Linked DNA regions of Homo sapiens. The protein of the gene in region 1 purifies or fractionates together with the protein of each later gene. This does not show direct contact. Each region holds a gene or a part of one and is shown in the gene's direction. Other genes may lie near its edges. The genes, in order: TRAF7, PFDN4, TM9SF4, FAM167A, PDCD5, SYNGAP1 and PFDN1.

What was found.
Region 2: the proteins of TRAF7 (region 1) and PFDN4 purify together in Homo sapiens (affinity purification with mass spectrometry; 3 studies listed by BioGRID and IntAct, with this or other methods). This does not show direct contact.
Region 3: the proteins of TRAF7 (region 1) and TM9SF4 purify together in Homo sapiens (affinity purification with mass spectrometry, with the first as the bait; one large-scale study listed by BioGRID). This does not show direct contact.
Region 4: the proteins of TRAF7 (region 1) and FAM167A purify together in Homo sapiens (co-immunoprecipitation; one large-scale study listed by IntAct). This does not show direct contact.
Region 5: the proteins of TRAF7 (region 1) and PDCD5 purify together in Homo sapiens (affinity purification with mass spectrometry, with the first as the bait; one large-scale study listed by BioGRID). This does not show direct contact.
Region 6: the proteins of TRAF7 (region 1) and SYNGAP1 purify together in Homo sapiens (co-immunoprecipitation; one large-scale study listed by IntAct). This does not show direct contact.
Region 7: the proteins of TRAF7 (region 1) and PFDN1 purify together in Homo sapiens (affinity purification with mass spectrometry; 2 studies listed by BioGRID and IntAct, with this or other methods). This does not show direct contact.

The regions. Positions count from the first base shown.
Region 1 is NC_000016.10:2,154,310-2,158,581, forward strand, and holds the start of TRAF7 (E3 ubiquitin-protein ligase TRAF7), read left to right. Parts: upstream 1-1,472; 5' UTR 1,473-1,549; intron 1,550-4,272. UniProt on the Homo sapiens protein: E3 ubiquitin and SUMO-protein ligase that plays a role in different biological processes such as innate immunity, inflammation or apoptosis. Potentiates MAP3K3-mediated activation of JUN/AP1 and DDIT3 transcriptional regulators.
Region 2 is NC_000020.11:54,206,865-54,210,886, forward strand, and holds the start of PFDN4 (prefoldin subunit 4), read left to right. Parts: upstream 1-1,222; 5' UTR 1,223-1,236; coding exon 1,237-1,260; coding exon of another isoform or gene 1,261-1,506; intron 1,507-1,537; exon of another isoform or gene 1,538-1,886; coding exon of another isoform or gene 1,887-2,051; intron 2,052-4,022. UniProt on the Homo sapiens protein: Binds specifically to cytosolic chaperonin (c-CPN) and transfers target proteins to it. Binds to nascent polypeptide chain and promotes folding in an environment in which there are many competing pathways for nonnative proteins.
Region 3 is NC_000020.11:32,164,735-32,167,756, forward strand, and holds the end of TM9SF4 (transmembrane 9 superfamily member 4 isoform 1 precursor), read left to right. Parts: intron 1-560; coding exon 561-710; 3' UTR 711-2,522; downstream 2,523-3,022. UniProt on the Homo sapiens protein: Associates with proteins harboring glycine-rich transmembrane domains and ensures their efficient localization to the cell surface.
Region 4 is NC_000008.11:11,421,754-11,425,253, reverse strand, and holds part of FAM167A (protein FAM167A), read left to right. Parts: intron 1-617; coding exon 618-881; 3' UTR 882-3,500.
Region 5 is NC_000019.10:32,579,876-32,583,989, forward strand, and holds the start of PDCD5 (programmed cell death protein 5), read left to right. Parts: upstream 1-1,314; 5' UTR 1,315-1,386; coding exon 1,387-1,452; intron 1,453-2,319; coding exon 2,320-2,357; intron 2,358-4,114. UniProt on the Homo sapiens protein: May function in the process of apoptosis.
Region 6 is NC_000006.12:33,447,565-33,451,064, forward strand, and holds part of SYNGAP1 (ras/Rap GTPase-activating protein SynGAP), read left to right. Parts: intron 1-265; coding exon of another isoform or gene 266-278; coding exon 279-369; coding exon of another isoform or gene 370-372; intron 373-1,224; coding exon of another isoform or gene 1,225-1,239; exon of another isoform or gene 1,240-3,500. UniProt on the Homo sapiens protein: Major constituent of the PSD essential for postsynaptic signaling. Inhibitory regulator of the Ras-cAMP pathway.
Region 7 is NC_000005.10:140,282,602-140,286,101, reverse strand, and holds part of PFDN1 (prefoldin subunit 1), read left to right. Parts: intron 1-3,500. UniProt on the Homo sapiens protein: Binds specifically to cytosolic chaperonin (c-CPN) and transfers target proteins to it. Binds to nascent polypeptide chain and promotes folding in an environment in which there are many competing pathways for nonnative proteins.

The DNA.
Region 1 (4,272 bases):
TCCACAAATCTCAAAAGCCTTTTTGGACTCACCCTGGGGCAAAAGGCATGAAAAACAGTATTTGACTGGGCGTGGTGGCTCACACCTGTGATCCCAGCACTTTGGGAGGCTGAGGTGGGCAGATCACCTGAGGTCAGGAGTTTGAGACCAGCCTAACACGGAGAAACCCCGTCTCTACTAAAAATACAAAATTAGCCGGGCGTGGTGGTGGGCGCCTGTAATTCCAGCCATTTGGGAGGCTCAGGCAGGAAAATCGCTTGAGGTGGAGGTTGTGCCATCGCACTCCCGCCTGGGAAACGAGCAAAACTCCGTCTCAAAAAAAAAAAAAAAAAATCACGGGCAGAAATGGAGAAGGCAATCCCAAGAGATGAAAAGTCACTGGTAACGAGCTTCCGTTTTCATGTCTGTACCCTTTTCCAAGATTGCCTGTGGATCAGCCAGACCTCTGGGGTGCCAGAATAGGAAAATAAAGACACTTGAGAGAAAACCGAATCAACTCACTACCTTTCTTTATTGCTAAGCACTTCAATAGACACAGCGCCCACCTTACCGCTAGGCCCTCCGGATTGAGGTTTACTTAGGTTCAAAACTTGCAGCCGGCTCGCGACGAAACCTGAAAGTCAGCGCCAAAATACAGACATTAAGTCCCCACTCCTTCGTTTCGGGCAACACCTGTTTCCACTCTCAGCTCCCCGTCAGGAGTGCGCACCCTCAAGCCTCAGTCTTGCTAAATAATCAGACTGCACGTGCAGTTTTCATACGAGGTGTCAGAAGTCAAAGCAATTCATCACAGACTGGGAGAATAAGGGAACCCAAGCCCGGCCCAGTCTTACCTGCAGGTAGCTGAGGGCCTGAGATTCGGGAAGAAACCTTTAAACGCTAAGGGACAAAGTGGTGCGTAGGCCAGGCCTGGACGCCCAGGGACCTGGCCGGCCTGCAGCGTTCGGACGGCCCTCAAAGCCACGCTCGTGGCTCAGTTCGTCCCAAGATCGTAGCACATGGCGAACGTATTAACAAACCTCTTCCCCCTCGGACTCGACCCCGAAAAGACAGGGGCGGGCGAGGCTCAAGCTTTTATAGAAACTGTCCCACCTCTGTCATTGGGCTATCCTGGCGGAAGTGCCCGCCTTCCCCCGCCGCTGGTACGCTCCGCTCCCTGCCGCGTTGTTTCCACCAATCGTACCGTGGCATTTCTTTTGGAGACGGTCTCTCAGACCCAGACCCGAAGCTCCTCCCTTATGCAGAGTCCGTGAAGCCTAACGGTGAGTGACGGATGAACAAAGCCAATCAGACTTCGATCTGCAACATAGAGTGATTCTGAAGCTGCCATTCCCGCCCCGCGACGACGAGGCCGCCGGAAGTCGTAGTTTCGGAAGTGCGGCGCGTGAGGCAGCCGTCCGGGCCCGGAGAGGCGGGGAACTACACGTCCCGGCGGGCGCAGCGGCCTGGCGCTTCCGGCTCGCGCGTCTAGTCCCTTTCCCGGCCGGCGGCCGAGGGGGCATCATGAAGCGGGCTGGCGGCGCTGCCGCTCCCGGGCGGCCGCGGGCGGGTGAGTGTCCCCGCGGCGCGCCCGACCCGGGGCTCGCGCCTCGGGACCGCGCGGTGGGGCGGGATCGGGCGCGTGGAGATCGAGGCGAGGCGAGGCGAGGCGAGGGGTCGGGCCGGGGCGGGGAGGGGGGGGCGGGGCTGAGACGGTCGGGGTCGGGGTCAGGGTCGGGGTCCGCGTCGCTGTCCGTCCGCCAGTCAGTAGTCCGTCCCTCGCTCCGTCCTGTTCTCGCGCAGTTCTTTACTCATTCCTTCTTCCTGCATTCCCCGAGACTCCCGGGTGCCAGGCACTGTTCTGGGCGCCGGGAGACCGCGGAGAACACGGTCCCAGTTCTCCTGTGCTCGGCGTCTGCTGCAGGGTTCCCCAACCTCCGCACCATCGACCACGCGGCCCGGGTCGCTTTTTGCTGCGAGGAGCTGCCCTGTACATTGTAGGATGTGGAACAGCTTGCCTGGCTCCTGGCCGCTAGATACCAGTAAACACCACCCCTTCCTCAATTGCGATAACAAATGTCTCCATGCATTGGCAAATGCCTCCTGCGGAACAACTCCCCCCATCCCCCATCTAGACAGACAGGGTGGTGGGATTGACAATAGGTAGTTAAAATCATGGGGAGCAGCGGTATGTGCTGTGAAAGAAAGAAAGAGGGTGCTGAAAAAGTGAGTACTGGCCGGGGGTAGGGGCGGCGCTACCGTTAGCCAAAGGCCTGTTGGAGAAGCAGCCAGTCCCAGGACATGCAGGAGGAGCATTCCAAGTAGAAAGAGCCAGATGTACATAGGCCTGGGGTGAGAAGGGGCCTGACGCACCCCAGCAAGCACTGGCAAGTGGAGAGGTGAAGTCGATGAGGCCGGACCAGGCTCACAGGGTGCATGGTGGGGTGGGGCGGGGGGGTTATTATGCTGGCAAATGACTTGGGGTTGAGGAAGCGCTGGAGAGGCGGTCCGATCTAGGTCCAGTAAAGAGCTTTCTAACTGTGTGTGGACCACAGACTTCAGAGTTCACTGGGGAAGCAGGAGAGAGGGAGGCTAGGCCATCGTCTCCTAGTCCCCACTGGGGTCCTGCTGTCAAGATACGGTTGTCTTGAGCCAGGCCAGAGTGGTCAGCTGGGGTTGAGTCTGGAGTCCAGGGGCAGGGGCCTGCTGGAGCCCACCCTGCTCTTGGGGGTGAGGGGCTGCTGGCTTGCTCAGGAATTTCATGCCGCCCAGCCTGTCTGCCCACCTTTCTCACTACCCCTCAGACCCCTTCCTGGGCACACACAGGCCCCCTAGCCCTCGCCAAGTGAGGAGCCTCCCTCTTCCTCATTCCTTCTCTTTGGGCCTCTCCCTTCCTAGACCCCTTCCCTGTGCCTCTCTGTTGCGAATATCCTGACTTCACTGTTCTGGGCATTCATAGTTCTCTGTGGAAGCCTCGGGCCCCGTGTCCTGAGGGGGAGCAGTGGTATGGGCAGCCTGGCCTAAGGAGGGGAGGGGCTGGGAGTCAGCACCCCAACCTGACGCCCCAACCTGAGGGTCTCTGGTGAAGTGACTTCCACCGTGGCCCACTGGGGCCAAGTGTTACGATATTTCTGGAAGTGAATGGAAAAGTTCAGGGTCTTTGGCACCCACCGAAAAGTGCCTTTGGCAGATTGAGTGGCGATTGGTGGGGCTCCTGCCCCTCTGTCTGCCTGTGTCCCCCACAAGGCTCCTAGCTCCTCCCGGGTCAGATTCGTGTTCAGCCGTCACACATCCCCACCCTCCCGCATGGGGCCTGGCACCCCGTGGTTGGTGTGACTCTCGGCCAGCTGGTTGGACAAGGAATGAGCAGTTTGGGGAAAGGAGGAAGATGCAGTTGAAGAGCCTCCTGGCCAGGAGGCCTGGGCAGCCTGGCTCTGGGATGCAGCCACTCCCCGGCTTGGCATGGGACTGGCTCAGGCGCTGCCGGGGCTCCTGGATGTGTGGCAGCCGTGGACGAAGCAGAAGGAATGTGACTCTGGTCACAGCGGCACAGCCTGCTGGCTGTGTCCCTGGGCCGGCCTCTCCGCCTTCCTCAGCCTCCATGGTCCACTCAGCAGAGGAGCTGCTGTCTGGGGTGCCTTCACTCTTGACGGATCCATCTTCTCTCGGCTCCTTCCAGACAGGGTTCTGGCTCTATTCCGTTTTTCGAGAAGCCCGAGGCCAGGAGGGCAGGTACACAGCTGTGAAGTGGTAGAAGTGGACTTTGAACCCAGCTCTGTCTGAGCCCAGTGCCTGTGGCCTTGACCACGGTGTCACAGCATCTCCTGGATGGACACCCTGCGGGGTCAGGGAGGGCATGTGGGGAGGGCCGAGAGCTGTTGGCTGCGTGTGTCTCAGTCCGGCCTTCTCAGTGGGTGGGCACCGAGGACTTCACCAGGCCCTCTGTGTGGATCATGCGGGGGGAACCTGTGGAGAGGGACCCACCAACCCCTTAGTCTTTGACAGATCCGCTGCTGTCCCCAGCCTTGCTCCCTGGAGGAGGAGGGTGCAGCCAGGTGGGGCAGGTGAAAGGGGAAAGCGGGCACTGGAGGCTGGGGCTGGTCACGTGTAGACCCGGACACCCTCACCCGGCTGGAGGAAGCCGGCTGCCTGGAAACTCGGGGTGGAGGTGACCCAACCCCAGAAGCACCCAGGTGGGAAGTAGGGGGCAGCGACGCAGAGGGCCAGGACTGAGGGCCGTGGGACGGTGTGGGAAAGGAGGTGGCAGTGCGGTGGCACGCTGGCATGAGGGCG
Region 2 (4,022 bases), on another chromosome or scaffold:
TTAGAAAATATAGTTATTTTTAAAGTGTGATTTTTATTACCATGGAATGGAGTTTTATATTATTTTAAATGAATTAATAAATACATTTTAAAAATTCTGCTTTAATTTCTAATACAGCAAATATCGATAAATAACCCACATAAACAAAAGTTCTTTGGAGTCCTCAGTAATTTCCAGGAGTATAAAGAGGTCCTAAGGCAAAAAAAAAAAAAAAAATTACTAATTGGGAGACACAAGTGTCAGAATATACAGTAATTGTTCAGTAATATTGCTGTAAATTAATTAATAGGATTGCCTAGTCACAACAGCAAAGGCATGGAATCAACCCAGATGCCCATCAGTGGTGGATAGGATAAAGAAAATGTGGTCCATATACACCATGGAATACTATGCAGCCATAAAAAAGAACAAAATCATGTCCTTTGCAGCAACATGGATGCAGCTGGACATCATTATCCTAAGTGAATTAACACAGAAACAGAAAACCAACCACTCATGTTCCCACTTATGAGTGACAGCTAAACACTGGGTACTCGTGGACATAAAGGTGGGAACAATAAATGCTACGGATTCCAAAAACGGGGAAGGAGGCAGGGGAAAGGGGTTGAAAAATTACCTGTGGGGTACTATGTTCACTACTTGGGCAACGGGATCATTAGAAACCCAAACCTTAGCACCATGCAGTATATCCATGTAATAAACCGGCACACATACCCCCCGAATTTAAATTAAAAAAAAATTACATTAAAAGATAGGAGTACCTCCTTTACACCACCTGAATTATCATGGCACATAAATCTCACACCCTATTTGCCAAGGCCATTCGTTCCTAGCTGTTTTACAGGTAGGTTAGCTTTCTCAATGCAAGTCTGTGGGACGGATGGAGAAAAATTCCCCGAGCCCTTTGATCCTGCCCCAGCTGGGCCCCGCCGCGCTGAGCCTTGGGCGCGCCCCCTGCTGCCCGCGGCCGGAGCCGTTCGCCACACCCCCGTGTTTATGTCGGTCCACGGGGGTTGCCTGTCCCTTTAATTGGCATGTACCAAGTCCTTCCAGGTCACATTTCCTCCCTACGTCCCAGCCGTTTGGACTCACTGGCCAAAAGTCCAAGAGGACGGAATGTGGAGACAGTGTTGTATTTTTGCGGGGAGTTCTAGGCCGACCGGGAGCGAGAGAACGCTCGGGGGCGAAGCGCGCCATTGCGGCCCTCCCCGCCGCCTGCGGTAGTCCAGTCCCAAGATGGCGGCCACCATGAAGAAGGCGGTGAGTGGGGAGCTCGGGGCTCTGGATGCTCGGGCGGCGCCGGATCTCGGCCGCTGGGGCCCGGGCGCGGGATGCTGGGGGTGCGCAGCTCCGAAGCCCGGCGTGGGACCCGAGGCCGAGGCCGAGGCCCTGAGAGCGGTCCCGCGGCAAGGCCTGCTCGCGCCTGGCGCCCTGAGCGTTTTCCTAGGCACCTGGCCAGCCGAGGCGGGGCGCCGGGGCTGGGGCCGGGAGCCTCGAAGGACGCAGGTCCGCCTCCCGCGATGCCGAGGGTGCCCCCGGGGAGTCTGAGGAACCTGCAGCCCCGGCCTCGCCCCTGAGGTGTGGGAAGCCGAAGGTCCCGTTGAGTGTGGTTGGCCTTGACTCGGGCGTTGCACCGGCATGATCGCATTAGCCTCACTGGTTATGGGTAGCTGCTGCTGGGAGCGTGGTTACGGGTGAGGAAACTGAGGCCCAGAGATGGGGAGTCACCTGCCCGAGGTTACGCAGCTCATAACGGGGACAGCAGGTTCCTGCATCCCCAGATTAGCAGGCCCCAGAGACCCTGTGTCCAACCTGGAGCTGCCCATTTCCACGCTTGATGCCCCTGAGTCCTTCAGGCTAAAACCAGTATTTATTGAGAATGGAAGATGTGCCGGGCCCAGCAGCCGGCCGTTTATCTGTTATCCTCCCCGCAACTCAGCAAGTGCAATGGGTTCCTCTCCACTTTGCAGGTAGAGAAACTTAGACACAGAGCAGTTAGAGGCCCTAAAGTGACTCAGCTAGTAAGAAGCAGAGCTGGAGTTCAAACTCAGGTTTGTTTTTGTTTTTCTCAAAGCACGCCTGTGTAACCACTAAGCCGGCTAAACTTCCATGTGGGGTTTTTAATCCCGTGAGCCTTCCCAGATGTGTAAAGATAGTCAGATAGAAGAAAAAGAAAATTGGAGAGGGGGAAGGAGATAACGGCTGATAATTTGGGGAGCTTTACAGTGTGCTAGGTACAGCTGTAAGTTGTTTTGCGTGTATTGTTTATTTTATGTTCTTTGAGGGAGATACTGTTTTTATCCTTATTTAACAATGAGAAAACAGGCGCGGAGGCAAAGCTAGCATTTAAACACAGGCATTCTGACTCCGGAGTCTGTGTTTTAAACTGCTATAGGGGGTCTTTGATGAGAATCTCTTGGCTGGAGGGATTTGCGTTCATTCCACTTTTAAGACCACATTAGAACTTCTTTGCTTTGCCCCTATCCAGTACCACATAGTCTATGCCATCTGTGCCTGGTGTAGGGTGACCCATTGCCCCCTTTTATATGAAATTGAGGGACTGCCAAAAATGGGAAAGCCCCAGCCAACTCAGGATGTGTTGCTCACCCTACTATTCTGCCATCCAAAAATTCTTACTGTGTCCCAGAGTAGGGTCTAGGGCCATGGTGATTCAAAAAAGTATGAAACTTTGTGAGATTCACTTCACCTCTAGTTTGTTAAATTGGGCCCTCTGGTGTTAGGTATGGCCTTTAATTCCTTGGAAGATACTAGTTGTGGTTCACTCCGTTTTATAGGTATGGAAACTGAAGTGCAGAGAGGTGAAGTAAATGGTAGAAGAGGAAATGGCAGAAGAATGATTTGAACCTTGGATTTTGATTGCAAAATTTCTAATTACCAACTTTTTTTTTCCTTTCATTGATTCAGTAAATTTTCGGGGGCACGTAATATGGCGTAGTCTCAGTTTTAAGTGGAGACAACTGTGGTGACCAGTGAGAAAGCTCTTCTCCCCTTAATCTCATAGCCCCAAAGAACGTATGTTCCAGGGCAGAGCAGGCATTACTCAGATAGTCAGACAGAAAACTAGTTTCTCTGATGAGAACTGTGAAGGAAAAGTGCTTATGAAATGAGGGCCAAAATGAGGTCTGTTTTGAGATCAGAGAAGACTTTCCTGGGAAAGTGCCATTTAAGTTGAGATCTGTGAGATTATGTAAGGAAAGGAAGGGAGAGTTGGATAGGGAGCGAAGCATTCTAGAGAGGAGTATCTGCAGAGACTCTGAGTGCATTTAATACAAGGAAGGCCCGATGGCAGATAATCAGGGGAAGAGAGTTTGAGCCATGATGGGAAAAGAACTTATAGAGGGGTAGGTGGTGGCCAAAATATAAAGGAGCTTCTTTAACTTTGGAGGCTTTAAGAGTCACATGATAGATGCAGTGTCCTCCTGTAGATGTTTCCAGTGTTAGGAACAATTCCCGATAGATTAGCTTGCATGTACACTTTTCCCCTTTGCCCTCACTAGGAGAAAACATATGTGTATGCCAGTGAGTGAGAGTGAAACAGAGAGAGATAGCCCTTTGAGTTTAATTAAAAGCAAATCGTACAATCTGGAGTACTTTACGTTTGTAACACATCGTATCTCTCAACTGGTCATGACTTTGCTGGGGAGAGTGTTTAGATGAGATGATTCAGTCCTCTCCTCTCTAGAGTTCTGCCTTCTAAGATCCAGTTCTTGACCATAAGGAGATCTGCACTTTGATTTCTGTTCATTATCCTATATACAAATGTCCTTTCCTCAGAGAGGCTACCTTTGACCTTTATCTAAAGAAGCCTCCTTCACTCCCCAGGCCCCCAAAACTTTCTACTCCTAAGCTGTTTTATTTTCATCATCACGTTTGTCACCATTGAACATTATCTTGTTCATCTTGTTTTTTGCTCTCTTCCTCCACCAGGATGTATGCTTGCCATTTGTATTCATGAAAGTGGGATAGTGGCTCTCTTGTCACAGTGCATGGCGTATAGGAAA
Region 3 (3,022 bases), on another chromosome or scaffold:
ATTAGTTCCCTTTGTAAATAACACAGATCCCCAGCATCTCTGCCCAGCCTCTAAACTCTACCCCAGTTAAAAAGGAGTCCAAAATGCTCCAAGATCAAAATCTCTGTGAGATGCTAACAAAAGTGACAAGCATTCTGGGGAAGAGAGGAATGAATGGAGGCTGAGGCGGGCTGATGGGGCTCCTGGTCCTGAAGCTGGGCATCCTGGACACCCCTCCCCTCCCCCACCCACTCCGACTGCTTCTCCAGCCATGCGGGAGTGTTGCCATACTGATCTGGGGTCTGTGGGGGACCAGGAAGGGCACAGCTGTGGCCATTCCTTTTGTGGCATTCTGGGCCTGGCCCCTGAGGCTATGAGCATTAGGGCAATACACAGGCCTGGTCCAGATGAAGCAGAGCTGTGCCCATGAACCCTGCCTGCCGCTTGCCACCCACTGGAGCACGCCCCTTCCCCTGGCCAGGCCTCAGTTTCCCCATGATATCAGTGAGAGTGGGGCCCCAGTTCGCCATGCAGCCTGGCACTAAGCATGCACCCTGTCTTCTTTCTGCTCGTGGCCGCAGCTGGACATCGTGGAGTTCATCCCCTCTCTCCTCTACTTTGGCTACACGGCCCTCATGGTCTTGTCCTTCTGGCTGCTAACGGGTACCATCGGCTTCTATGCAGCCTACATGTTTGTTCGCAAGATCTATGCTGCTGTGAAGATAGACTGATTGGAGTGGACCACGGCCAAGCTTGCTCCGTCCTCGGACAGGAAGCCACCCTGCGTGGGGGACTGCAGGCACGCAAAATAAAATAACTCCTGCTCGTTTGGAATGTAACTCCTGGCACAGTGTTCCTGGATCCTGGGGCTGCGTGGGGGGCGGGAGGGCCTGTAGATAATCTTGCGTTTTTCGTCATCTTATTCCAGTTCTGTGGGGGATGAGTTTTTTTGTGGGTTGCTTTTTCTTCAGTGCTAAGAAAGTTCCCTCCAACAGGAACTCTCTGACCTGTTTATTCAGGTGTATTTCTGGTTTGGATTTTTTTTTCCTTCTTTGTTTTAACAAATGGATCCAGGATGGATAAATCCACCGAGATAAGGGTTTTGGTCACTGTCTCCACCTCAGTTCCTCAGGGCTGTTGGCCACCCTATGACTAACTGGAAGAGGACACGCCAGAGCTTCAGTGAGGTTTCCGAGCCTCTCCCTGCCCATCCTCACCACTGAGGCCACGACAAAGCACAGCTCCAGCTCGGACAGCACCCTCAGTGCCAGCCAGCCTCTGCCAGACCTCTCTTTCCCTCTTCTCCCCAGCCTCCTCCAGGGCTGCCCAAGGCAGGGTTTCCAGCCAGGCCTCGGGGTCATCTTTTCACCAGGAGCAAACCCAAGTCTTAGTTGCTACAAGAAAATCCCCTGGAAGTACTGGGGGCCAGGTTCCCCAGACAGCAGGAATTGCCCCTGTTCAGAGCAGCCGGAGTTTGCTGGACCACAAGGAAGAAGAGAAGAGACTTGCAGTGAACTGTTTTTGTGCCAAGAAACCCTGGACCTGGGGCCAAGTATTTCCCAAGCCAAGCATCCACTTGTCTGTGTCTGGGAAGGGATGGCCAAGGCCGCTAGGGTCCTTACCCCTCAGGATCACTCCCCAGCCCTTTCCTCAGGAGGTACCGCTCTCCAAGGTGTGCTAGCAGTGGGCCCTGCCCAACTTCAGGCAGAACAGGGAGGCCCAGAGATTACAGATCCCCTCCTGTAAGTGGCCAGGCATTCTCTCCCTGCCCTCTCTGGCCTCTGGGGTCATACTCACTTCTTTAGCCAGCCCCATCCCCTCCACCCCACACCTGAGTTCTTGCCTCCTCCTTTTGGGGACACCCAAAACACTGCTTGTGAGAAGGAAGATGGAAGGTAAGTTCTGTCGTTCTTTCCCCAATCCCCAGGAATGGACAAGAAGCCAACTTAGAAAGAAGGGTCTCACGTGGCTGGCCTGGCTCCTCCGTAGACCCCTGTTCTTTTCAACCTCTGCCCACCCGTGCATGTCATCACAAACATTTGCTCTTAAGTTACAAGAGACCACATCCACCCAGGGATTAGGGTTCAAGTAGCAGCTGCTAACCCTTGCACCAGCCCTTGTGGGACTCCCAACACAAGACAAAGCTCAGGATGCTGGTGATGCTAGGAAGATGTCCCTCCCCTCACTGCCCCACATTCTCCCAGTGGCTCTACCAGCCTCACCCATCAAACCAGTGAATTTCTCAATCTTGCCTCACAGTGACTGCAGCGCCAAGCGGCATCCACCAAGCATCAAGTTGGAGAAAAGGGAACCCAAGCAGTAGAGAGCGATATTGGAGTCTTTTGTTCATTCAAATCTTGGATTTTTTTTTTTCCCTAAGAGATTCTCTTTTTAGGGGGAATGGGAAACGGACACCTCATAAAGGGTTCAAAGATCATCAATTTTTCTGACTTTTTAAATCATTATCATTATTATTTTTAATTAAAAAAATGCCTGTATGCCTTTTTTTGGTCGGATTGTAAATAAATATACCATTGTCCTACTGTTTTGTCTTGAATCTCATGCAGGGGTTGGAGGTCTGAGGTGAGACACCTTCCCCGAGTGGGTTGAGTTGCACAGTTTCCCCCGAAGCTCATTCTCGTGTCACACTTCAGGGCTCAAGCCACTGTTGTTCCCTGCCTGGTACAAGTCCATTGCCTAGCCCCTCCATACTAAATTGCAGTCATTTGCTCTTCTGATCCCACAAGCAGGAAATGACAATCAAGTGTGTTTTGGTAGCAGCAAGATCTGGTTTTGGATTCCCAGCTTCAGTCTTTTACTGTCAGCTCATCTCACTCTATGAAACCCAGTTCTTCAATTGTAAGCAACAGAAACATCGGTCAAACTGGTTTTAGCCCAAAAATGAATTGATTGGTTCTTAAGTCATCAAGGATTTTGTTTATTTTGCTTCAGGTCTGGCTGGATCCAGGGGCTCAAAGGATAGCCTTAGGGCTCTTTCCCCTTTTCCACTGTGCTCCTCTCCGGCGTCACTCTGTCCTGTTAT
Region 4 (3,500 bases), on another chromosome or scaffold:
CGGTTAACTGTTGCATGTTAATAGACCCAAAGGCCTTAGAACTGTTTCATAATAAAACACCCAGTACCTAGGAACCAATTTTTGTTTGGCTGTTTTGAAACTTTACTAAGAAATATTTCAGGCATTCTAAAACGTTTAAAGAGTAATGTAACAACATGACACTCCCCAGCGTAAGAAAGAAAACATGGCCATCACAGTCAAAGCCCCCATATACCTTTCCCAATCACAGTCCCTCCTTCTCACCTAGAGGCAACCATCCTCCTGAATTTGATAGCTGTTACCCTATGTTTTCCTTTATACTCTTACTCCATCTAAATGAAACTCTAAACAATGAGAAAGCACTGGAAGTATCTTCTAGCCAGGACCAATATGCATGTCTTTCAGAAGGACTTAGATACAGCAACTAGCCTAGCACAAAGTATTGTTTTGCGACCGCACCCTCATTTGTCACCTTGCTTTCTGTGTCTTTTCACCTCCCTGAGCAGGGAAAGTGCTAATATTTCTAGATGGACCACTTAATGAACTAAGACATTAGTCAGGGCCCTGCTAACCAGTCTGTGCCTGTCAGGGACTCGAGCCACTCTCTGCTGACCCTGCCTGCTCCCCCTCCCTTCCAGACGGAGATGCGGCTGCAGGACCAGCAACTGGCCAGACAGCTCATGCGCCTGCGTGGCGACATCAACAAGCTGAAAATCGAACACACCTGCCGCCTCCACAGGAGGATGCTCAACGATGCCACCTACGAGCTGGAGGAGCGGGATGAGCTGGCCGACCTCTTCTGTGACTCCCCTCTTGCCTCCTCCTTCAGCCTCTCCACACCACTCAAGCTTATTGGCGTGACCAAGATGAACATCAACTCTCGGAGGTTCTCTCTCTGCTGAGGAGCCCTCAGACTGGGCGGAGGGGCTGGAGCGGAGGGCTTGGGCTGGAGGGGTGTCAGAGGAAGCTGAGGCCAAGTTACTCCAGTGGGTCTCCCGGAGGCAGGGGTCCCTGGGACTGGCGACTCAAGGGCCCCAGGACCTATTCAGTGGTGCTCTCCCACCCAGGGGCCCTGGGTGTGGATGCCAGTGTCTCTGTGACTGGCTCTTGCTTACTACCCAAAGAGCTCTGCAGAAGGGCCGCTCCAACCAAGATGTTAAAGGAGACCTGGGTTCCCACCATAATCCATCCCTCCACGGTCACGTTCCTGTTTCCTGGAATCACTGGTGCTATGAACTGGGATTCCCAAAGGGAGGCCCCCCAACAAAGCTGTCATTTTTGCAGAAGGCTGTCCCGCAAGGGCCTTGGGGGAAATTAGGCATGTCAGATGTGCCTGTCTCACGTGCTGTTGCTGTCCTCTAAGTATTGTCTCAAATTCACCCTAAGTACATGACTCAGCAACATTGACAGGGAGCTACTAGGAAGGGAAAATCGAAAGGCATGACAAATGGGCACTTGGGGACGCAGCCCCAGTGGCTGGCAGCCAGTGTCTCTGGTGAGCCTGACACTATAAGGCTGTGTAAATTGTAAATTCTGGCGTGTGCTGGGACATGTGATGGGGGCACTAGCGTAGCTTGGGTGCAACAAGCACAGATGTCCCCATTGTCTCCCCTGGCCACATGCATCTCCAAAGAGCCTCTTCACTGCCACCCACACCCCAGGGTGACAGCCTGGGAGACCACTGGTGACTGAACCAGGCAGGTCCTGAAAGCATTTTCCATAACTGAATTCTCCTGCAGGGGCGTGACCGGGGCCTCCTGGTGGATTCTGGTGGTGTCACCTTACTGCCCTCTCTGGAAAGACAATCTAGGGAGCCCAGAGGCCCATCCTGAGCCTCCTCTGAGATTTTGTGCCTGACCTAAACAACTAGTTTTAATAAGACTGTTACTGATGTGTTGTTCACTTGTTAGTAACTGATTTTTGTCCAAATGCGGAAGCCACTTGTGTAGGTCAACTACAGTGCGTAGGATTTGATTTTAAGAGTTTCTCCCTCCCAACAGGCTTGAGGATCAGCAAGTTAAGACCCCAGCAGGTTAGGGAGGTCAGTCTGGGGTCATACGGCATGGCAGGGGTCCCTCGGCCAGACCCGTAGAATCCTGAGATAAGGAGTGTTTCTGACCTTTGGTGTCATCTAGTCGAGTCCTCTCATTAGTAAAGGAGCAAAGTGAAACCTGGGGGAGGAGAAGGACTTCCCTCAGGTTGCACAGCTGTTTAGGCTATAGAATATTGATGTGTGAAACCATTATTGATAATGCCTAGTAGATCACATGTCAATGAACTTGAACCCCAAAGATGGTCGTGATGCTTTGCCAAACCCGCACACTGCCAACCCCTCTACTCTCCACCTCAGCCCCCACCCACATCTCCCAGAGTATTGCAATTCAGAACATTTGGGTCAAGGTGGAGCAAGGCACTGACAGTGGCCCCACAGGGCATGTGTCACTAATCACTGTCCCATGGTCTACGCACGGCATCTGGCTGCTCTGTCTACTGTGACTTCTTCCTGTGTAATCTCAGTGGGGCCCGTGTCCACCCACACATCGTGACCCACATAGGGGAGAGGTTGCTTTTCTTTTGTGGGCTGAGAGTAGGACAATGCAAATGAATGATCTCTAGTAGACAGAAAAGAACTTGGTCTCTTTTTTAAAATTTCAAAGAGCCAGAAGTTCTATGCCTCCTTCAAAGTAGGCAGAACAACGCAGCCAAGATCTACTGTCTGCCATGCTCTGTGCAATGAAGTCTGCAGGCCTGAGGACCATGTACTGCTGTCCTTCCTCAGAGCTCTGCACAAACACTGCCAAGTCCTGAAGACGCATTCCTTTCCTGCCAACCTCTTTCCAGATAAGCCCTTGAGGTCTCGGGCTGACCTACACACACACACACACACACACACACACACACCCCCACACACACACACACGACAGAGAACATGCCATAAACATCCTTGAACCCATGCAGGAAAGCCCATCCCATATTCTGAAAAAATGCCAAATTAGGTTTTTCTTTCTTTTTGGAAATCAGTCATTACAGTAACCGAAACCATTGGGTTCAGCGAAAATGGAAAGATTTAGCTGAATGTAGTCAGTCCAATTAAGTTGGATGCAACTGAGTGATTTAGTTGCTTGGGTAACCCAGTGCTTGCTTGCTTTCTTCATTCTCTGGGTGGAAACTAAGATCAAGACACATGTTTGGGGATAAGTTAAATGTCTGAGCTATTTTGCTCGGTTTATCCTAAGAGAACTTTATTATGGGATGAGGAGGTGACCCAAGATGAGAAGTGGAGGGGGACAGCGATGTTTTCTAAACATCGTCCAGTGTTGACTGGCTTCCTTACTTTGCACAGTGAACACAACTAACCACATTAATTCAGCTTTGTGAAGTCCCTGCTCTCTGTGGGTCTATGAGTCAGCAGCAACATTGGCCTAACCTCCGTCCCAGCCTCCTGGCTCACCACATGTGTACAGTGCTGTTTGCAGTTGTACTCATTATCCATCCATCTCTCTGCCATCCCCAAGCATCGC
Region 5 (4,114 bases), on another chromosome or scaffold:
TCTCTACTAAAAAATACAAAATTAGCCGGGCACAGTGGTGCACGCCTGTGGTCCCAGCTACTTGGGAGACTGATGCAGGAGAATCGCTTGAACCCGGGAGGTGGAGGTTGCAGTGAGCTGAGATTGAGTGACAACTGCACGATAATGCATTTCATACCACTGAAAAGTACACCTAAAAATGGTGAAAATGGTAAATTTTGTATTGTGTATATTTTGCCACAATTAAAACACACAGGCCAGGTGTGGTGGCTCATGCCTGTAATGTTAGCAGTTTGGGAGGCTGAGGCAAAAGGATTGCTTGAGCTCAGGAGATAGAGGCCAGCCTAGGCAACATAGCGAGACCCCATCTGTATTTTTTTAATGTAAAAAATAAAATAACACACACACAGACAAACAAACAGAATCTGTATGAGTCACACGTTTAGGTAGCTGAATATCCTCTCTGCCCCCAATTCCCCCAAGTCAAAGGCAGAAGGGATTTGTTCCACCAAAGAGTTTACACCAGCCACAGCTGCCCACTGCAGTATCCTCCCAGGAAAAGCCCTTTTGTGCGTGGAGGAGGCAGATGGCGAGGAGGCAGATGTGCACTTTTTTTTTTTTTTTTTTTTTTTTTAGAGACAGGGTCTGGCTGTGTCTCCCAGGCTGGAGTGCAGTGGCGAGATCAAGGCTCACTGCAGCCTCGAACTTCCGGGCTCCAGCGATCCTCCTGACACAGCCTCCTGAGTAGCTGGGACTACAGGTGCACATCACCGCGCCCAACTAGTTTTTTAAAATTTTAGTAGAGATAGGCTCTTGCCATATTGCCCAGGCTGGTCTCTAACTCCTGACCTCAAATGACCCTACCGCCTCCCGAAGCGTCGGGACCACAGGCGGCGAGCCACCGGCCGGCCTCTGTGTGCACCGAGGAGCCGGGCAGCCACCGCCACGATCCAGCTTTAGGACATTTCCATCACCCCACTCAGCCTTCCTGCGCCCCTGGTTCCTCATCTATAAATAGAGATAATATACGCCTAACCCTCTAGGTCACCAGCACATTGCACCCATAATTATTATACTTGTTGATGCCACACTTTCAGGTTTTAACCTTTCCAAAGCGCAGCCCCGCCCCAGCGCAGCCCAAGTCCCTGCACGCAGAGGCGCCGATCACGGGTGGGAGGTGGATCCCGGAGGCCCCGCCCCAGGCCCCGCCCCTCCGTGCGCCCAAGCTCGACCGCCTGAAATCGGGGAATCGGGCCTCTGCCGGCGCCCTGGCAGCGGCGCGGGGCGTGGCTCCGGGCTGGATTGGTGGCGCCTGGGCCCCGCGAGCGCCTGCGCAGTGGTCAAGGCCGCGCTCGCGCCGAGGGGCTGCGAGAGTGACCGCGGCTGCTCCAGCGCTGACGCCGAGCCATGGCGGACGAGGAGCTTGAGGCGCTGAGGAGACAGAGGCTGGCCGAGCTGCAGGCCAAACACGGGGTGAGCGCATCAGCCCCCGCCAGGCTTGGCCCTCGCGGGGCGCCGCCCTCGCCCGGAGTGTAGGGCGCGCCTCCGGGGCGGAGGCTCTGGGCGCCTCCCCGGGGCCCCGGTCCCCTGCGCTGCCCTGGCGGCCTCGTGGCCGGCTCAGAGGTGGCCTCGTCGCTTTCCTCGTCGCGAGGGGCCCAGGAGGCTGGCGGCGGGGGCCGCCACGTGCGGGACCTGCCCTGGCGTTGGGGTGTGGGGTCCCCTAGCCTGGAGCGGGCTCGTCCTGGCGGGCCTGGATCCAAGCACAATCTCAGCTTTTGGAGCCAGCAGCCGGACCGAATTCAGTTTTTCCGGAGTTCAGTTGTTATGACCCAAGTTTAGCCGACAGGTATTGAGGGTCCGCTGTGTTCCCGGTGCTGAGAGCGCGGCAGGGTCGGAGGAACGCTTGCCCCGCCGGGATGACAGGGAGGGGCCGCCTGGGAAGCTTGGATGGATCACACGCCCGGAGAGGCGTTTCTGATAAGGGACCGGGACCTTAGGGACGGAGGGCGCAGTCTTTGAGTTATCGTTGTCCCTAATACCGAGGCCCGTTTTATTTTCCAGAAATTATTCCTACATGTGAAACACGGTTTCGTAATACAGGGATTCCCCTCCCCAGGGTGCTCTGTATTCCAAAGCCTTCTGAGGTTGTGGTTTTAGACGTTCATCAAAACGTTGTAAGTGGGAACTAGTTCATTGATTTCTGTGAGGCCCAGTTTCTTATTTGGGGAGTTGTTTCTACCACCGCAAGAGACTGTTATGTATAGGAAACAACAGAACCGTTCCTTTTTCCCGCCGCCTCCCGTGAAATTTCTCTATTAAATTTAAGTTTTTTTTTTCCAGGATCCTGGTGATGCGGCCCAACAGGAAGCAAAGCACAGGTATGGGCTGGAAACGTGAACTTTTTGAAGGGTGGTTTCACCAAATGGATTTCTTTTGCTGTAGTTATTTTAAGCAGGTGTGTGACTCAGATTTTTTTGTTTTGCTGGAATGGTGATTTGGCCAAAATCATCCGCAGGGTATCTTCATTATTGTTAAATAAACACGTGTGCAGCTCCACATCAGACCTTGTATTGCAATTACTGGTTGATGTTTCTCTGCTACAATGTGAGTACCTTAAAAATGAGCCTGATAATAGGCAGCTGTGGCAGTTTCCTCGGCTGTGGGGGTGACGTGAGTCCGGTGCCTCACTTAGTAAGTGCTCAATAAGTGTTAACTGGTAAGCTATTCTGATTGTTTTATCCCAACACAGCGCACAGCACCTGAGACAGATGCAGGTAATTGATTCGGTGGCAGGTTTATTGAATGAGTATGTGATTACCCTATCATGCTATCATTTTTTAAAAATTGTGGTTAAATAAAATTTCACCATCACAACCATTTTTAAGTGTGCTCTTCAGTAGTGTTCACACTCTAGAATGTTTTCATCTTGCAAGACTGAAACCTTTAGCTACTGGACAATTCTCTATTTCCCCTTCCTCACCTTCTTACTCCTCCTCTCCAGCAAATATTTATAGAGCACCTGCTCTGGGTCAGGCACTGTGCTGGGTCTACAGAAATAGGAAGGGAGGGTTCGGGAGAAGACAGACGGTGAGAAGTATCTGGAGTAGTGATAGGAAGTAAAACGACGCAAATTTCATTGATTTCTGCCGTGTACATCTTTTCATTGTCACATATCTGAAATCAGGATGCCTTTTAAAACAGATTGCTCTTGCCCCAGATTCTTCCAGAGGGGATTTACTTTTGACTCTGCTATCACTTGAGTACATTTCTGAGACCATTGAAAGTTAAATTCTCTGCTTGAGGTTTTCCCCTGCCTCCTGCCTAGTAGTGTGAATTCAGACAGCAACCCTGTAAGACTGAACTTTTTTCTTCTTTACGTCAGGGCCAGGTGCATGCAAGCTTTTGTACTGCCCCTTACTGCATGGCATATTTATTTATTCTTTACTTTGTACTGAGAATGTTGCTCTTTGATACCCCAGTGGTGGGATCAGAACTCACTGCAGCCTCAAACTCCTGCTGGGCTCAAGTGATCCTCCCACCTCAGCCTCCTGAGGAGCTGAGATGACAGGCGTGCACCACCATGCCTGGCTAATTTTTTTAAACTTTTTTTTTTTTTAATAGCCTCGCTATATCACCCAGGCTGGTCTCAAACTCCTGGCTTCAAGTGATCCTCCCACCTTGGCCTCCCGAGAAACCCCAGTTTTGAATGGAGATCTCTATTAGACCTCTCATTTTAGGGTTTTTCATTTTTAGAGATACGTAAAACTATGGTGTATCTTAGAATTGATGGCATCTTAGGGTTCTGTGATATAATAGTTTGTGGCAGGCCAGGTGTGGTGACTGAAGCCTGTAGACCCAGCTACTCAGGAGGCCGAGGGGGAAGAATCACTTGAGCACAGGAGCTTGAGCTGATCATAGCTGCAGTGAGCTGTGATTGCACCACTGTACTCCAGCATGAACAGCAGAGTGAGACCCCATCTTTTTTTATTGTTGTTGAGATGAAGTCTCACTCCATCACCCAGGCTGGAGTGCAGTGGCACAATCTTGGCTCACCGTAACCTCTGCCTCTGAGCTTCAAGCGATTCTCCTGCCTCTGCCTCCCAAGTAGCTGGGATTACAGGCACCCGCCACCATG
Region 6 (3,500 bases), on another chromosome or scaffold:
CACTGCTGTCCTGATTGGGACGATGGAGGCCTGGAGGTGTCTGGATGGTAGAAGTCTTTGAGGCACAGAAAGCTGCCTTAGCAGGGAGGTGTAAGGGTTCCTGGGAGGAAGGTGGAGAGCATGATCCTGAGGAACAGGGAGTCTTGCATCACGGCAATGGAGGGACTCTGATTCTAAGGGATAAGGATGCCTGAGGTTTTTCCAGAGAGCTATGGGGTTCCATGGGCAGGCTCTGAGCCTGTGCCCGCCACTAACCCCACTGAAGCCCGTCCCTTCAGGCTGATGCTGGTGGAGGAGGAGCTGCGCCGGGACCACCCCGCCATGGCTGAGCCGCTGCCAGAACCCAAGAAGAGGCTGCTCGACGCTCAGGTGGAAATTACAATGTCATTTATCTTCTCCGTGTCCCATCCCCATCCATCCCACTGTCTTTCGTGCACTCACTACACCAGCCACCTAGCCCCATCACCATCTGTCTCTCATAGTCTGCTGTTTGTCCACTGGCTGCTCCTGGCAGCCCCCTAGTGACCCCATCTTCATCCCATCGTCTGTGCCTTTGTCACTCCTGGCAGCGTCAGCCCAACTCCTGTGCCTTCCCATCCAGTCTTCCCACTCCTCTCTGCATCTCAGGACCTTCTCTACCAGAACCTTGGTCTTTCTGCCCCTAGACCCCACCTAGTTCCAAGAACCCCTGCCCCTTCTTTGCTCACTCCTATTCAAGCCACGTTGTTCAGCTTCCTCTGCGCTCTTGGGCCAGAGGGCTAGAAGCTGCCGTTTTCTGGAATAGAGCACAGGGCAGTATGATCTGTAGTTTCTCCAGGCCCTGGCCGGTACCCTGAAAACTTGGGGACCCATCACCTCTGTTCTCTTGGCTCCCTAATTTTCCTGTCTCCTTGGCAGCTCCTGCATAGCTTCCTCTTCCTGACTCTTCAGATCTTGAAGGCCTTCCATCCTGTAACCTCCCTTTGCCCTCAGTATTTAAGTCCAGCCTCCCTCTGGCCTCCCTCCCACTCTGGCCCTCAGACCTTCCCAGCTGCCTGCTGCCCAGCCTCTCTTCTCACAAGCCAGCTTCTAGGACCTCCCTTCTGCACCCTTACCCCTTGCTTTCCCAAAATTCTGCTCATTTTCCTACCCATACTCCTCTTTGCTCTGACTGCTAGGCTCCCCCCGCCTGCCATCCCCCCACCAAGGCTCCTGACCCCATGACCCCACTCTCTCCCACTGCAGCTCCTCATCAGGTAATTCTCCTGGTTCCGCTTTGGCCACGGGCGGAGGACACAGGGGGAGGTGACTCCGGACCACTGCAGGTTGGTCGTGAAGCCCACTCCCTCCAACACCTCCGGAGCCTCTCCCCTCTCACTGCTGCCCTCCACACCCAGAGAACCTCCACAGACTCCAGCCCTCCGACACCTGCACAGATCCATCTCCCAAGACACCACCCAAAGAGAGCATTTGCTGCTGCTTCCCAGAACTGTCCAACAATACCTTAGCAACACCAAGAGTTGGGCCCTAGATGGGCCCAGCACATTCACAGGTCACACCCACTTCCCTGCAAAACCCACCCCCTCCCAGCCTCCTCCTGACTCTAAGCCCTCCTCTTCCTCTACCTCTCCAGTGTATGTCTGTCACCCCCCATTTCACCAGAGCGTCCTTAGGGGCTGGGGGTGGGTTTGTTAATGGGGTGGAGGCAATGATGGGTTGGAGGATCTTGGCTATAGGGGCTGTGCTGACTGCAGCAGGTAGGTTGGGTTTCCCTCTTCCTTCCCTAATCTTGGTTCTCTACCCTCCTTTCCACTCCTCACCTGATTCTCTCTCTTCCTCCTCCTTATATCTGTGAGGCAGAAGGCATCTGAAGCTCATATTAGCCCCCATTGGGTGGGAATTAGGAGTGGGTAGTTAACTCAGGGAGACTTGAGATACCCTGGAAAAAATGCTATTGAGATGTCCTGACATTAGGCAGGGTGGATGGAACAAGAAGGAGCAAGAAAGGAACCTCAGGCAGATGTTAGGACATGGACTTGATCATGTGGCCTGGGAGTTTAGAAATGGGGAGAGACATCCTCCTAGATCAGATCGTGGGCTCAGTAGGCATGTTGATTCCCAGGGAGAGGTGCCAGGAACAGCATGGTAAAGAATGTACTCTTCACAGCTCACATCCCCAGGTTGCTGATGCCACTCACTCCCCCTCTCCTGCCATCGAGTGGCCTTGCCGGACACATCACCCTACCTAAAAAGCCAGTAAATGAGAACCTGTCAGCTATAGCCATCATTTCTGAGATGCGATTTTCTTTGGGATTGAGCTGCAGTGGGCAGTGGCTCCTTACACTGTAATTTTAATTCTCTGCCTGCCCAGCCTCTCTGTCAAAGTAGCTGGTGATCTATAAAGATGCTAAAAGGCACCAGGGGACTTTGCCATTTAAAGGACTCCTGCAGTGAATTCTTTTGTAAAATGAATAATGGCACCCTAATTTATCCACTTTCTAAATTTGGGTCCATGGGGGTGTCCAGGGCATGCTTATGTGCTGTCACCAGCAGACAAACAGAGGGAATGGAATCTGGGGGTTCCTTCCCTGCTCTCCCGCCATACTCAGGATACCCTACCATAAGTGATTTCCTCTCACTGACTTGCAGAAAATGTGTGAGATACCCAGCAAGCTAAGAAGGCAGTTTTGCTGGGTATCTCATACCCAAGGCTGGGGTTTGGGTGATCTGAGAGGTTAGCTCCTTGATCCTAGGATGGAAGGGAGAGCTTATATAGAAGCTTTTACTTGGAAGGTTTTGTATCCTAAGGTCAGACATAGCTATATTACCAAGCCTAAATGCCATGTGGCCCAGGAAATAATTTGGACATTTGTTCTAAACCACTTGTGGTAGGTATTGGTCTCTCTGCAACTCAGCCATTAATTAGAAATTAGTTTTGAGCCTGAATTTTAAAAAGCCAAGTGTTGCCCCCAGCCCACACACACACACACGGACATGTACAGTACAAACCCCAGATAATTACAACAGCCAAAGAGAGAAGGAAGTGAATTTCCCAACCAGAAGCGTAGGGAAATTCAGATGGCTTTCTTTTCTCCCAGCAGAGGAACAGAAGGCGGAGCTAAGGGCAGGAACCAGGAGTTGGTCAAGGAGCTATAGGAGGTGATGAGAGTAGAACCAGGGGTAGGAGCTGGTCTGGTACCCCTCACCCTCTAATTGGGAGCCCAGGGAGAAGGACTGAAAAGAAGATGGGAGTGGAAAAGAATAAAGCCAGTTTCTGCTTCCCAGGGATGCAGAGATTGGGGCATGCTGTGTCTGCAGAAGCTCCTAGTCATTTCCGCCATAATTGTGAGAGAGAGGGGCAGCCCTCCCACAAGATTTTTCCCTTCCCATATCACTTCCCTGAATCCCCTTCCTTTCCCCCCAGTACAGTTAAACCTCTCTCTAATTTGGAATGTTATATTTGAGAAGATGGCCACTGTGAATAAGTGACAAACGGAATGACAGTGTCTATTTAATGAAAT
Region 7 (3,500 bases), on another chromosome or scaffold:
TTTACTTACTTACTAACTTACTATATTGACATCTTTACATGTCAATAAAAAAAATATTTTTTTTTAAATTTCGGTTTGGTTTTTTATTTAATTAGTCATTCTTTTTTAAAAAAATTTATTTATTTTTTAGACATGGGGCATTGCTATGTTGCCTGGGCTGGACTTGAACTCTTGGATTTAAGCAATCCTCACACCTCAGCTTTCTGAGTAGCTAGGACTACAGGTGCATGCCATTATGCCTGGCTGCCCCCTTGGTTTTATCTCCTGTTTTGTATCCTATTTCTGTGCCAGTGTGGATACTTAAGGTCTCCAGGATTCAGCATAAACTCTCAGGATGAAAGCCAATTTACTGCTGTCTTACATTCCTGAATTCCCAGTTTCACTTCACTTTGGACCTTTGTGGAATCCTTCCTTTTGTGTTAGTTCAACAAAATGTTAAAAAAAAATTTTTTTTTCCTTTGTTTCTAATCAGGAGTGTTCAGGGTATCTACTCTTCATTATGCCAATAACAGAAGTCTGTAACTCACTGAGCAGTCCACAATGTGGATGTGCCATAAAGTTTTAATCACTTCCTTACTAAGGAAGTGATTAAAGTAAGAAATAAATTCAATTTAAAAAAATTTTAAAAAAAGAAGTTCAATTTATTTCTACTTGCTTCCACGCTAAAAATTACGACGTAAAAATTCAGTAACTTTCCTCACCAGTGGAGTTAGGCAAAGAAGCAAGATAGGCTCATTCTTTTTTTTTTTTTTTTGAGATGGAGTCTCGCTCTGTTGCCCAGGCTGGAGTGCAGTGGCGCGATCTCGGCTCACTGCAAACTCCACCTCCCGGGTTCACGCCATTCTCCTGAAGATAGGCTCATTCTTATGTCTTTTCTATGCTGCTTAATTTGTGAATACCCTGAAACCTAAATGCTAATAGGATACGTTTTTAGACACCCTCTAAAAATTTCCCACCCAAAGTGAACTCGTCATAAGCATTTTGTTGTTTCTGAATAGCATATGTCTAGGTGACCATACTTTGGAAATTGTGTCCAAAATGCAGCAGTGCAAGTGATCTGGGATTGTGTTTTGGGCAGGTGAACAATGGTTTTGATTCATACTGAGTTATAAGAAAGTGGAAGTTGTACCAAACTGCAGGATGATTTAGAAAACGGAGTCTGATGTTTCTCAAATAATCAAAACCGAAAGTCTCAGAATTATGTTTTCAGATGGCATAATTACAAATAAATGAGGAAGTGAAATAGCAGGTTACAAGTCCTTGAGAGTGGACAGTGCAGAGGCACGTGGCACTGATTTCCAGGTCAAAGAAGAGGCCTTTTGCAAAGCATCAACTCGAATTCAGGTTATATAATCCTGAGTATTTTAAGCATGTTATCTGCATATTATTTGTCATGAGAGAATACTTTCCCTCTTCATGGTTTATTTTTCCTTATTGGTACATTTTGAACTCCAGAATTCTTTATTTACTATTTGGCTTTCCATAAACAATCAGGCAGAATGACTATGAGATTCTCTACATTGAGCAACTGTGTACATAATATTTGCTTATGATAAGACTTATATTATCATGATAAATCCTTTCTCTTCACATAGTATCTGATAATCCAATGCCCTTTTAAACAATAAGAAAGATGTTTTCCAAAGACTTTTTTTCAGAAATCAGATGTTTCTTGGAGCCTTTTCCAGTCTTCATACAATATATCTTTGCCATTTTTTAAATTGAGGACTAAACCAAACTTTCCATAAGTTTTTGTGTTTGAATTTTTACTGTGTAACTACTCTTTGAGGTAGACATTTGCATTTACCCAACATTCATCCTTGTTAAAACTTGCGTGGCTGAGATGTCCTTAGGTTTGTAGTAGTAAGTTGGCCAGCTTCGGTGGAATCTCTCTGGCCTTTGAAGTTGGCACAGTCCAGTATAGCTACCTCAAAGGATATGTGGTCATGGAAAAACGTGTTTTTGTTGTTGAGTGTTCTTGCTTTCTAGTAATTTTATTTTCTGCTCAAGAGATTTAGTATCTGTTCAGATACTTTATTTTTAAAGGCCACATAAGTAATGACTTGACCTCTAATCTTAGCTTTGAAATTTTCCCAGACACTAATAAAGATGATGTCTGATGACCTTTTATTTGAGAATAGTACTCATTGGCCAGCTATCAGTGCTACTTAAAAATGTATATTTTACTCAAAAAATTATTTCCATGGCTAAAAGACTTTCTCAGTAAAATCACACATGTCATGACATAATTTGGTGACTCTTGCACCTTGTTTTAGAATAGTTTTTACATAACATTACTGAGACTTAGTACTGTTCAAAACAACTCTTCTCTTCAAATACAAATATGAGTTAGTTCTGAGAAAAATATTCTGTAAACCATAATCTTATCTGAAATAGCACCCATCTCTTGGATCCAGTAAGAATATTTTAGACATGAAGGGTTCTATAGTAAAAGACCTGGAATTAATCCTTGTTTTGCATGAATGTGGGCTCTCTTTCCTGTAAATATACAGTAAGGTTTTACAAAGAATCAAGTTACTACTGAAGACTAAGATCATCAGTTGGGCTGGGCTGGGCGTGGTGGCTCATGCCTGTAATCCCAGCACTTTGGGAGGCCGAGGCGGGCAGATCACGAGGTCAGGAAATCGAGACCATCCTGGCTAACATGGTGAAACCCTGTCTCTACTAAAAAATAGAAAAAATTAGCCAGGCGTGGTGGTGGGCGCCTGTAGTCCCAGCTACTCGGGAGGCTGAGGCAGGAGAATGGCATGAACCCGGGAGGTGGAGCTTGCAGTGAGCCAAGATCATGCCACTGCACTCCAGCCTGGGCAACAGAGCGAGACTCCGTCTCAAAAAAAAAAATTATCTGGGCTGGCCGCATTAGGATATAAGCTTAATAATTAGTGGAGTAAAAGAAGTTCTTCAGATTTTATTAATATGTGTGGTAAGGCTTAGTTATGAAGAAGAGGGGACAAGGCAGTTTCCTTCCAGGTGTTGGGGCATAGCTAATTGCCCTTTTTGGTCTGTTTTTACTTGTCTTATATCTATAATAACGGACTCTCTTGATAAGAACCCACCTAGGCACAATGATGTTTTTGTGGGGTTGGCAGAGGAAACTGCATGTTGCTACCTTGATGTGTTTTCTCGTTTGACTTTTTGTTAAGAGATGATGTTTAGTTCTTTGTTGCTGAACTCTGTTAGTGCAAAGAGAAGAAAAATCTTGCTTAATTAATTGCAATATTAAATTGAAATATATTTTAGCTTCCTTAGACAGTCCTGAAAGAGATTTGCATAACTGGGGTCTTCCCTTGGTTCCAGTGGAGGGGAAATATTTCAGTTCACTTACTTGGGGCTATAAAAGTTTGTTCTTCCTTTCCCTGAAGCAAGAATTGTGAACATAAAGTCATAAAACAGTTTCAGTGTTAATTTTTAAAACTTCTCCATATTTCCACCCTCATCAGTGGTAAATAATGTGCCTGATGTAAAATGGAAAAAGTTGA